Linked DNA regions of Homo sapiens. The protein of the gene in region 1 purifies or fractionates together with the protein of each later gene. This does not show direct contact. Each region holds a gene or a part of one and is shown on either strand. Other genes may lie near its edges.

Evidence for each region.
Region 2: the proteins of CAP1 (region 1) and MAT2B fractionate together in Homo sapiens (co-fractionation; one large-scale study listed by BioGRID). This does not show direct contact.
Region 3: the proteins of CAP1 (region 1) and ERO1A fractionate together in Homo sapiens (co-fractionation; one large-scale study listed by BioGRID). This does not show direct contact.

Annotation. Positions count from the first base shown.
Region 1 is NC_000001.11:40,068,202-40,071,854, reverse strand, and holds part of CAP1 (adenylyl cyclase-associated protein 1), read right to left. Parts: intron 2,166-3,653; coding exon 1,981-2,165; intron 1,697-1,980; coding exon 1,573-1,696; intron 1,426-1,572; coding exon 1,343-1,425; intron 1,020-1,342; coding exon 876-1,019; intron 406-875; coding exon 322-405; 3' UTR 1-321. UniProt on the Homo sapiens protein: Directly regulates filament dynamics and has been implicated in a number of complex developmental and morphological processes, including mRNA localization and the establishment of cell polarity.
Region 2 is NC_000005.10:163,515,578-163,519,330, forward strand, and holds part of MAT2B (methionine adenosyltransferase 2 subunit beta), read left to right. Parts: intron 1-940; coding exon 941-1,134; intron 1,135-1,983; coding exon 1,984-2,097; intron 2,098-2,615; coding exon 2,616-2,786; 3' UTR 2,787-3,753.
Region 3 is NC_000014.9:52,688,934-52,692,586, reverse strand, and holds part of ERO1A (ERO1-like protein alpha isoform 2 precursor), read left to right. Parts: intron 1-3,653. UniProt on the Homo sapiens protein: Oxidoreductase involved in disulfide bond formation in the endoplasmic reticulum. Efficiently reoxidizes P4HB/PDI, the enzyme catalyzing protein disulfide formation, in order to allow P4HB to sustain additional rounds of disulfide formation.

The DNA.
Region 1 (3,653 bases):
TGTTTGTTGGTAGAATAACCCCCAAAAGCTCAAAGCTAAAATGCATCATCAGTCCTAGTCGGCAGTTCCTTAAGAATGGACTGGCGGCGTGGTTGAGCTGATATGGAAAAGCTGCACCTTCCTGCAGAAGATCAACTGACCTGCTATCCCACCCCAAATTTCAGCCTGAGGTATATTTCAGTGAAGGCAGGTAGCTGTGCTTCTCAGAGCAGAGAAGCAGTTTTAAGAGCAAAAAGGTAGAGGAAATCTAGAAAAGAACCGTCTTGATACAGATTTATCCCATGGTGTGAAGGGAGGGCAAAGAACCCAGTGGCACTTCGCTTATCCAGCAATTTCTGTCACTGTGGTGACCAACTTCTGCCCGTTCCATAGGGTCTTGAACTGCTCAGGAACTGGGAATTCATTCTGCAAATAAAGAAGAGACAGCAGGTTTAAATCTGAGCTAAAGAACAGCTGGGGCTAAATCTCACACATTTCTCCCAATGCTTGCTTCCACTTAACCCCAGGAGCACGGTACAATGTAGCAAGAGACAAACCCACAGAGCCATGCTATGTTCTAGTGTTCAGCGATCTTGGACAGACTATTAAGTCTATGGGGTGTAAATAACAGTACATATGGCTTTATAGCACCAGCCTGACAAGGTGCCATGGCTCATCCCCATTATTTTTTGCTACCTTGAGCTCCACTTAGGCAGAAAGCACCTACCTTTGGGGCTCCACTACATGGGACTACCTCATTTCTGTGTACTTTTGGTGTGCATTATTGGGTTTTTACCTGCTCAGTGCAGAATGTTCATAAAATAGCTTTCTTCAATGCCAGAAATCTTCAGTCCCTTCTGTTTTTAACATCATACTAAAGAGATCAAGAAACTTACAAAGTCACCGCCTTCTGTAGGAATGAGGACATTCATCTCGGAAGATTTGGCACTGACTATTTCACAATCCAGGGAATTCTTGCTCAGGTAAGCATGGCAGCCATCTGTTTTGTTGATGGATATGGTTGGCACTTTACCCATTACCTGCAGAGTAAACAAAGAGAACTGAGTCCCAGTGGTTGGGAAGGACAACAGTAAGTCGCAGGAAAAGGTTTCCTGTTTCACGTGACTCAGCAACTACATGAAAAGCTCACAGATGCGCAAGACACTGGATACTCGGGTGGGTTGGGATGGGTCCTGAAAAGAACTTGCTTGAAGAGCCAACCCTTCTTCTGCCACGTCCAAAGCAGCTCAGCTTACAGACTTTGTAGAATCAGATTCCCACCAAAGCAACATCTGTGGGTCTACCATGTCTCTTTGAATTAATTCCTCAGGGACAAAAAGAAGGAGCCAAAATATCGAGTTACCTGAACTTTGACATCCTTACTGTTGATTATCTCCACAATGCCCACCACGTCATCGAATACCAGGCCAAGTTTCTTACAGTTATCTAGGAGAAGAAAGGGAGTGTGTCAACGTGTAACTTTAAAGGAAAGTAATATACATTTAGGAATCTTTAAGGATAGGGTAGGTAAAATGGTATTAGCCTTCTCGGGCTCTGGGACGGGGCTTGCGTGGGACAGCGACAAAGACTCACCTACTGTAATGGAGTTAATTTTGCCCTTGATTTGCAATGTCGTGTTGACACACTTGTATATGTAAGCCACCTGTTTCAGCTCTGTGTCCTCAATCACCAGGTTGGAAACATTTTCCTGATTTTCCTGTTAGAGAGAGATCCCAGGATTCTCATCACAAAGCACACACCGAACAAAAAATAACCAGGCTATCCCAAACTTTTTGTTCTTGCAATTGAAGCCAGAACTCTGCCCTCATCTAGCTAAGCTCCATTTAACCTCCTGTTCCTACTCCTTTTCCCCGGGAGGCGGAGGTTGCGGTAAGCCGAAATCGCGCCACTGCACTCCAGCCTGGGCGACAAAGTGAAACTCCATCTCAAAAAAATAAAATAATAAAAATACCTGCCCCTGTCTAGGTATTTTTAACTCACCACTCTCCACTTCTTGCCCTCCAGTTCAAGTACAGCTGGCTCCTTCTTTGTGGCTCGTTTGGGGGATGGGCTGGTTTGGGGTTTAGGTGCAGAGAATGGTTTGGGGCCACTGCGTACTGGACCACTCTGAGCCTTCAGGGCAGGGTTCTTGTGAGTCTTCATGTCATCAGATACATGTTTCAGGGCTGTAAGAACAACAGCTACCTTGTTCCTGTCCTTCATACCAGACCTTTGAGCTGCTATCGTCATGTTAAACATCCTTAACAGAAAATTCAAAGCCAAAACCAGAGCCTTTGAGATGTTCTCTTGCAAGCAGTTTTGGAAAAGTACTTTTATCATTTCTCTTCTCCCCAAGATTAAATTATATGGTTCCATTAACAACAACATGGAATGTGTGTATATTGTGGGTGAGGATAAGGATATGTAAATCCTTATCCTCTATGTCTAGAAAGACATATCAAATGTATGTGCACAAATATATAATTTTTAAAGCAATAAAGAAAAATGAGTGGTAGTAAAGAAAATTTGGTAAAAGGAAAAGAAAAAAATACCCTCACTCCCCACAGCTAACCCTACTTCCCCCACCTCCTCAGTCAGTGTTGGCATTTGCAACTCTACAATATTGTTTTCTACATATATTTGGTTTTGTTGGTTATAATCATACAGATTGTTAACAAATTTAGTTCAACTATTGACACTTAAAAACTTTCTCATGTTAACCTGTAGTTTAATATCTTTCTAGGCCAGGCGCTGTGGCTCATGCCTGTAATCCCACACTCTGGGAGGCCAAGGCAGGCGGATCACCTGAAGTTAGGAGTTCAAAACCAGCCTGGCTACCATGGTGTATTTTTAGTCTCTACTAAAAGTACAAAAAAATTAGCCGGGTGTGGTGGCAGGTGCTGTAGTCCCAGCTATTTAGGAGGCTGAGGCAGGAGAACTGCTTGAACCTGGGAGGCAGAGATTGCAGTGAGCCAAGATCACGCCACTGCACTCCAGCCTGAGCAACAAAGTGAGACTCCCATCTCAAAAAAAATAAAATAAAATAAAAAATAAAAGTAAAAATATATTTCTTTTATGTTTTAAGGGAAAAATAATTCATCATCTCCCACAGCAGGCTGACACACGCCTCGCTTTGAACATGGCCAGATCTATGTTAACTGTATAACAAATACTGAATGGCCTTTTTATCTCCACCATTCCTTGTGGTTGTAATTTACATACTAGATTTTTTTTTTCTTAAACATTACATGGTTCACTGTAGAAAAACATGTAATGGTGGCACAACATTTCATCAAGAGGCCGGGCGTGGTGGCTCACACCTGTAATCCCAGCACTTTGGGAGGCCGAGGTGGGCAGATCACCTGAGGTCAGGAGTTTGAGACCAGGCTGACCAACATGGAGAAACCCCATCTCTACTAAAAATACAAAAAAAAAAAATTAGCCAGGCATGGTGACGCATGGCTGTAATCCCAGGTACTCGGGAGGCTGAGGCAGGAGAATTGCTTGAACCTGGGAGGTGGAGGTTGCGGTGAGCCGAGATCGCGCCATTGCACTCCAGGCTGGGAAACGAGCAAAACTCCGTCTCAAAAAAAATAAAAAAATAAAAAACATTTCATCAAGAGGACATGTGGTAGTTAGCCATTTCTCTTACAGTTGGATTTAGGTTGTTACAC
Region 2 (3,753 bases), on another chromosome or scaffold:
TTCTCATTTATGCCAAAAATGTCCTTTATTGCTTTTATTTTTTAATCTAGCATCCAGTCAAAGACTATTCATTGCATTCAGTTGTCATGATAAGTTTTATTTTTAATGATCATATTAATGTAGGATTTATATATATAAAAAAAACTAGTCCAAATGACAGAAGATACTTAACAAATGTGGTTTTGCCTTTTTCTTTTTTTTTTTTTTTTTTTTTTTTTTGAGACAGGGTCTCAGTCGCCTGGGCTGGAGTGCAGTAGGGTGAACACAGCTCACTATAGCCTTGACCTCCTTGGCTTAAGCAATCCTCCCACCACGAACGGCTAATTTTTTTACATTTTGTAGAGACGAGGTCTCACTGTGTTGTCCACGCTGGTCTCGAACTCCTGGGCTCAAGTAGTCCTCCTGCCTTGGACTCCCAAGTGCTGGAATTACAGTCATGAGCCCCACCGCACTCAGCCTTTGACTGTTTTTAATTTTATTTTTGAGGCAGGGTCTCACTCTGTTGCCCAGGCTGGAGTACAGTGGTGCAGTCATAGCTCATTGCAACCTTGAACTTCAGGCTCAAGAGATCCTTTTGCCTTACTCAGCCTCCCAAGTAGCTGGGACTACAGGCATGTGCCACCATGCCCAGCTAATTTTCATTTTAATTTTTTGTAGAGACGGAGTTTTGCTATGATGCCCGGGCTGATCTTGAACTCCTGGCTTCAAGTGATCCTTCTGCCTTGGCCTCCCAAAGTGCTAGCATTATAGGCATGAGTCACTGTGCCTGGCCTTGAATATTTTTACATTGCGTTGTCACAAGTGAGCTGTGTCATTTTGGTATATTTTAATTAAAAGGCAAGGTTTCTACTTTGATATTATTTAAATCCACACCCTTGTATCTTACATCAAAATTTAAGAATCAGTCAGCTTTAAATTATTTGCTTTTATTCTTCTCTAGGAGCTGCTGTTTTGAGGATTCCTATTCTGTATGGGGAAGTTGAAAAGCTCGAAGAAAGTGCTGTGACTGTTATGTTTGATAAAGTGCAGTTCAGCAACAAGTCAGCAAACATGGATCACTGGCAGCAGAGGTTCCCCACACATGTCAAAGATGTGGCCACTGTGTGCCGGCAGCTAGCAGAGAAGAGAATGCTGGTAAGAAGGATTCCTGAGTCCTGTCTTAGCGAAGGTCCGCTTTGTCTTTTCCATGCTTGAACTTTCACAGCTGTACTTGGAGTGTTACTGAGTGAAAGCCAAAAGTGCTTTTTTAAAACTAGGAGACCAAACAAAAGTAGTTTACATATACACTGTATTCATGAAGAATAAAAATATTATGCTCTTCTGTTTGAATTTATTTCTTATGTACTATAGATCCCATCATTTCTTTTATTGCAAAGTGTTAGGAAACTTCAAAATAATCATCTAAGGTCTTTTAAGAAGATACTCTTTGGGGGCTGGGCGTGATGGCTCACACCTGTAATCCCAGCACATTTGAAAAAGTTGGTATTAAATATAATATCCATACAAAGAAAGATGAGACTGATTTAGTTTAGAATATTAATAGGATGACCACAGTTTTTTAATATATGAGAATTATATTTTGTAATATATAACATGACAATATTTAAGAAAGTTTAGCTCAACTTGAAAAATGGTTCTATTAAGTTTTTGTTGTAGCTTGGGATAATTAAAAATACTCATTAAATTGTACTGTTTTCATAAAAATTTGTAATGCTTTTTTATATTCCCACTAATTAAGTAAAATTGGAGCCTTTTTTTGATTTTAAAAATTCTTAAGGTTTAAATTCTAGAAATTGCTCTTTTAAGTGTTTTGCTAAGAGTATTAGTAGGAATTTGATTTTAGATATCTTGTGGAGACCTTTCCAGAAAAAGAGGGTTGCCTTTTAGTTCCTGGACCTTATTTTAAGTAAGCTTTTTGGTCAAACCTATTCTACTCAGCTCAAAAAGTTGAAACTATTGAATTTATTGTGTCATCGTTCTTAGGATCCATCAATTAAGGGAACCTTTCACTGGTCTGGCAATGAACAGATGACTAAGTATGAAATGGCATGTGCAATTGCAGATGCCTTCAACCTCCCCAGCAGTCACTTAAGACCTGTAAGTACATGGCTGTAAAAACCTTTAGATCCATTGCTATGGTATATATTATTGCTGTGTTGGGTAACTTCATTTCTCAGTACTAATCAAAGTGAACTTTGCTTGTATGCTGGCTGTTCATAGTGCTACTTTTCTCTAAATTATCATCTGTAGAGAAGATCATGAGTATTGAAGTTTGTAGAAAATGTATTATTGTCTTGATCATGACAGGCATTTGGTTTATTTTTCCAGGGATGATCAAATCAGATTTCTTACACTAAGAGCAAAAATAAGTAGCAAATATAAAACCTCAAAATGGCCAGGCACAATGGCTCATGCCTGTAATCCCAACACTTTGGGAGGCTGACGCAGGAGGATCCCTTGAGCCCAGGAATTTGAGACTAGCCTGGGCAATGGAGGGAGATCTCATCTCTGTTTAAAAATATATACATATTTAAAAAAAGGTCAGGGGGAACAAAGCCCTCAAAATATAGCCTTTCACTTACTTTTGATTTTTTTGTGTTTATCTTTCTTTAAAGATTACTGACAGCCCTGTCCTAGGAGCACAACGTCCGAGAAATGCTCAGCTTGACTGCTCCAAATTGGAGACCTTGGGCATTGGCCAACGAACACCATTTCGAATTGGAATCAAAGAATCACTTTGGCCTTTCCTCATTGACAAGAGATGGAGACAAACGGTCTTTCATTAGTTTATTTGTGTTGGGTTCTTTTTTTTTTTTAAATGAAAAGTATAGTATGTGGCACTTTTTAAAGAACAAAGGAAATAGTTTTGTATGAGTACTTTAATTGTGACTCTTAGGATCTTTCAGGTAAATGATGCTCTTGCACTAGTGAAATTGTCTAAAGAAACTAAAGGGCAGTCATGCCCTGTTTGCAGTAATTTTTCTTTTTATCATTTTGTTTGTCCTGGCTAAACTTGGAGTTTGAGTATAGTAAATTATGATCCTTAAATATTTGAGAGTCAGGATGAAGCAGATCTGCTGTAGACTTTTCAGATGAAATTGTTCATTCTCGTAACCTCCATATTTTCAGGATTTTTGAAGCTGTTGACCTTTTCATGTTGATTATTTTAAATTGTGTGAAATAGTATAAAAATCATTGGTGTTCATTATTTGCTTTGCCTGAGCTCAGATCAAAATGTTTGAAGAAAGGAACTTTATTTTTGCAAGTTACGTACAGTTTTTATGCTTGAGATATTTCAACATGTTATGTATATTGGAACTTCTACAGCTTGATGCCTCCTGCTTTTATAGCAGTTTATGGGGAGCACTTGAAAGAGCGTGTGTACATGTATTTTTTTTCTAGGCAAACATTGAATGCAAACGTGTATTTTTTTAATATAAATATATAACTGTCCTTTTCATCCCATGTTGCCGCTAAGTGATATTTCATATGTGTGGTTATACTCATAATAATGGGCCTTGTAAGTCTTTTCACCATTCATGAATAATAATAAATATGTACTGCTGGCATGTAATGCTTAGTTTTCTTGTATTTACTTCTTTTTTTAAATGTAAGGACCAAACTTCTAAACTAATTGTTCTTTTGTTGCTTTAATTTTTAAAAATTACATTCTTCTGATGTAACATGTGATACATACAAAAGAATATAGTTTAATATGTATTGAAATAAAACACAATAAAATTAACACTTGAT
Region 3 (3,653 bases), on another chromosome or scaffold:
AAACTAAATTTCCACCAGATGTTTGGAAATACAAGTTAAAATCTTCTCTGGTTCTGTTTACAATATCCAGTGAGCTGCACAGTCCCGTTGATTGTTTTGGTAATAGTTTTATCTTTTCTTCCTGTTGCCTGTCCCTCTTACCACATCTGCCTTGGGTTACCACATCCCCATCCATCATCACACTGCTGCATGGTGCCTGGCTTATAGTAGGGTTCAGTTCACAGAATGTCCGCTCTGATTTGAGCTAGAGCAGTGACCTTAGAAAGTCACTGAATTAAAATGTGTAGAGCTCTACAAGTAATCAGATTAAATTCATCAAGCATATGTTGAAACCTACTGTGAACAATTTTTGGGAGATCAAAAAATGAATTAAAGGTGTGACACTTCCAAGAAGTGAGCCTGGTGAATAATTGGTGCTCAACAAGTCCTAGGGAAATTATAAGATGCAAGCACTATGCCAACAGGAGTATATTTTAAAAATTATTCTGCTTAGCAAGCCATTTGCATGTTTTCTGGAACTGATCTTTCAGATTGGTTGATAGCTCCAACTGAGTCTTTGAATTTGGTCAGTTGCTACATATGCCTGTTAGTTGATATCAAATCCTGCTAAAATTATTTTCACTGTATGTTGTAAGTTCCTTTGATAATAGTGCTTAAGTGTTAGTTGCTCAAAATGAATGATTAATTGCCTTAGACTTGTAAATCTGTATATGTAACCTCATGTAAGAATTGTATATACAACCTAGGCCAGGCATGGTGGCTCACGATGTTTGTAAACTCTTACTTGCTCATGATGTTTTATCAATCTTAATATGGCTAGTGCTAGTAACACTCAGGATAGCTTATTTGAGCACAGTAAATCTCTGTCAGGCTAATGAAAGGGGAGAGTAGCTCAGAGTCCAAAATAAATACTCCAAAAATGGATCTTTTTTAGCTTGGAGCGCATTTAGTAGATTTAACCTGTCAAGTGTCTTGTTAGGTCAGTTGAAACAATGGTTTTAATTGTTAGCCTGGTGGCTGGGCCGTGGGAGAGACACTTGCTAATATGTTGAGTGGTGGATGGAAATAAGCCCAGGATTATAACTTAGTCAGAGGGATCTTTGAAACAGGTTACACTGGAGAGGTGTCCACTGACTCTATGTGTGTGCTGCATTCCAGGCTTTTCTGAATAAACTGTGTGGAAGAAATATTTTCCTGATGGTTGCCAGTCATTTGACAATTTAAAGTTTCGGCAAGACTAAGTCTTTAAAGCCAAAATGACCTGTAGCGTTCTAGGTCCTTAGGATGGTGCCTACTACCTGGTGTGGAATCTTTGGTATTTCCCTGCTTCCATTGACAGACTTGTCCCAGTGTACTTCTGTCAACAGATGAGTACTTTTTATGTTATTTTTTTATGGTGATAAAACACAGTAAAATTAAATACACCTGAAGTTCTTTGCCAAATAAAGCACACTTTGAGCACATTGATTTATTTATGTATTTCTCTCCACCTTTATTGACACATAAAAATTGCATATATTGGCTGGGTGTGGTGGCTTACGCCTGTAATTCCAACACTTTGGGAGGCTGAGGCACGTGGATCACCTGAGGTTGGGGGTTCGAGACCAGTCTGACCAACATGAAGAAACCCCATCTCTACTAAAAATACAAAATTAGCTGGGCGTGGTGGCACATGCCTGTAATCCCAGCTACTCAGGAGGCTGAGGCAGGAGAATTGCTTGAATCCGGGAGGCAGAGGTTGTGGTGAGGTGAGATCGCACCATCACACTCCAGCCTGGATGACAAGAGCAAAACTGCGTGTCAGAAGAAAAAAGAAATGCATATATTTAAGGTGTACCACATAATGTTTTGATATATAAAAGGTCCTTATCCTTTTTTTTTCTTTTGAGACAGAGTCTCACTTTGTCACTCAGGCTGGAGTGCAGTGGCGTGATCTTGGCTCACTGCAAACTCTGCCTCCTGGGTTCAAGTGATTCTCCTGCCTCAGCCTCCCAAGTAGCTGGGACTACAGGCACCCGCCACCTTGCCCTGTTGGCCAGGCTGATTTTGAACTCCTGACCTCAGGTGATCTGCCCTCCTTGGCCTCCCAAAGTGCTGGGATTATAGACATGAGCCACTGTGCCCGGCCCTTGCCCATTTTTTAATTGGGTTATTTGTTTTTTTGTTGTTGAGTTGTATGAGTTCCTTTTATATTTTGGATAATAACATCTTGTCAGACAGATGGTCTGCAAATATTTTCTCCCATTCTGTAGGTTGCCTTTTCATTTTGTTGCTTGTTTCTTTGTTACATAGAAACATTTTAGTTGCATGTAGTCCCACTTACTTATTTTTGCTTTTATTGCTGGTCTTCTTGGTGTCACATAAAAAATCATTGCCAAGACTAATGTCATGGAGCTTTTCTCCTATGTTTTTTTCTAGGAGTCTTGGTGTTTCAGGGCTAACATTTAAGTCTTTAATCAGCTTTTAGTTGACTTTTGTGTGTGTTGTAAGATAAAGATCCAATTTCATTTTTTTGCACATGGATATCCAGTTTTCCCACCACCATTTATTGACAAGACTGTGCTTTCCCATTGTTTGGTCTTGGTCAAAGATTAGTTGGCCAGACATGTGTGGGTTTATTTCTGGGCTTTCTATTGTTTTCCATTGGTCTATGTATGTGTTTCTATGCTGATACAACACTGTTGTGATGACTGTAGCTTTGTAATATAATTTGAAATTACAAAGTAGGCTGCTTCCAGGTTTGTTCTTGCAAAATTGCTGTAGCTACTTGGGGTCTTTTGCTGTTCCATCCAAATTTTACAATTTTTTTTTCTATTTTTGTGAAAAATGCCATTGGAGTTTTGATAGAAATTGCATTGAATCTGCAGAACACTTTGGGTGGTATGGGCTTTTTAACAATATTAATTCTCTCAATTTATGAACATGGGATATCTTTCCATTTATTTGTGTAATCTTCAGTTTTTTTAATCACTGCTTTATAGTTTTCAGCATACTGATCGTTCCTCTCCTTGTTAAATTTATTCCTAAGTAGTTTATTCTTTTTCATTCTATTCTAAATAGAATTGTTTTCTTAATTTTTTTTTGGATAGTTCATTGTTAGTGTATAGAAGCACAATTGATTTTTGTATGTTGATTTTGTATCTTGTAATTTTGCTGAATTTATTCTAATGGTTTTCTGGTGGAGTCTTTAGGATTTTCTATATATAAGATCATGTCATCTGCAAAAAGAGACAATTTTACGTATTTTTTATTTGGATACCTTTTATTTCTTTCACTTTCCTAATTCACACTTTGAGCATGTTTAAAAGGTATTTCATAAAAAATGTATATGAGGGCCGGGCGCAGTGGCTCATGCCTGTAATCCCAGCACTCTGGGAGGCTGAGGCGGGTGGATCACCTGAGGTCAGGAGTTTGAGACCAGCCTGACCAACATGGTGAAACCCTGTGTCTGCTAAAATACAAAATTAGCCGGGCATGGTGGCAGGCACCTGTAATCCCAGCTACTTGGGAGGCTGAGGCAGGAGAGTCTCTTGCACCTGGGAGGCAGAGGTTGCAGTGACCTGAGATTGCACCATTGCACTCCAGCCTGGGCAATAAGAATAAAACTCCGTCTCAAAAAAAAAGTATATGAGGAATATATTCTTATAGTGCTT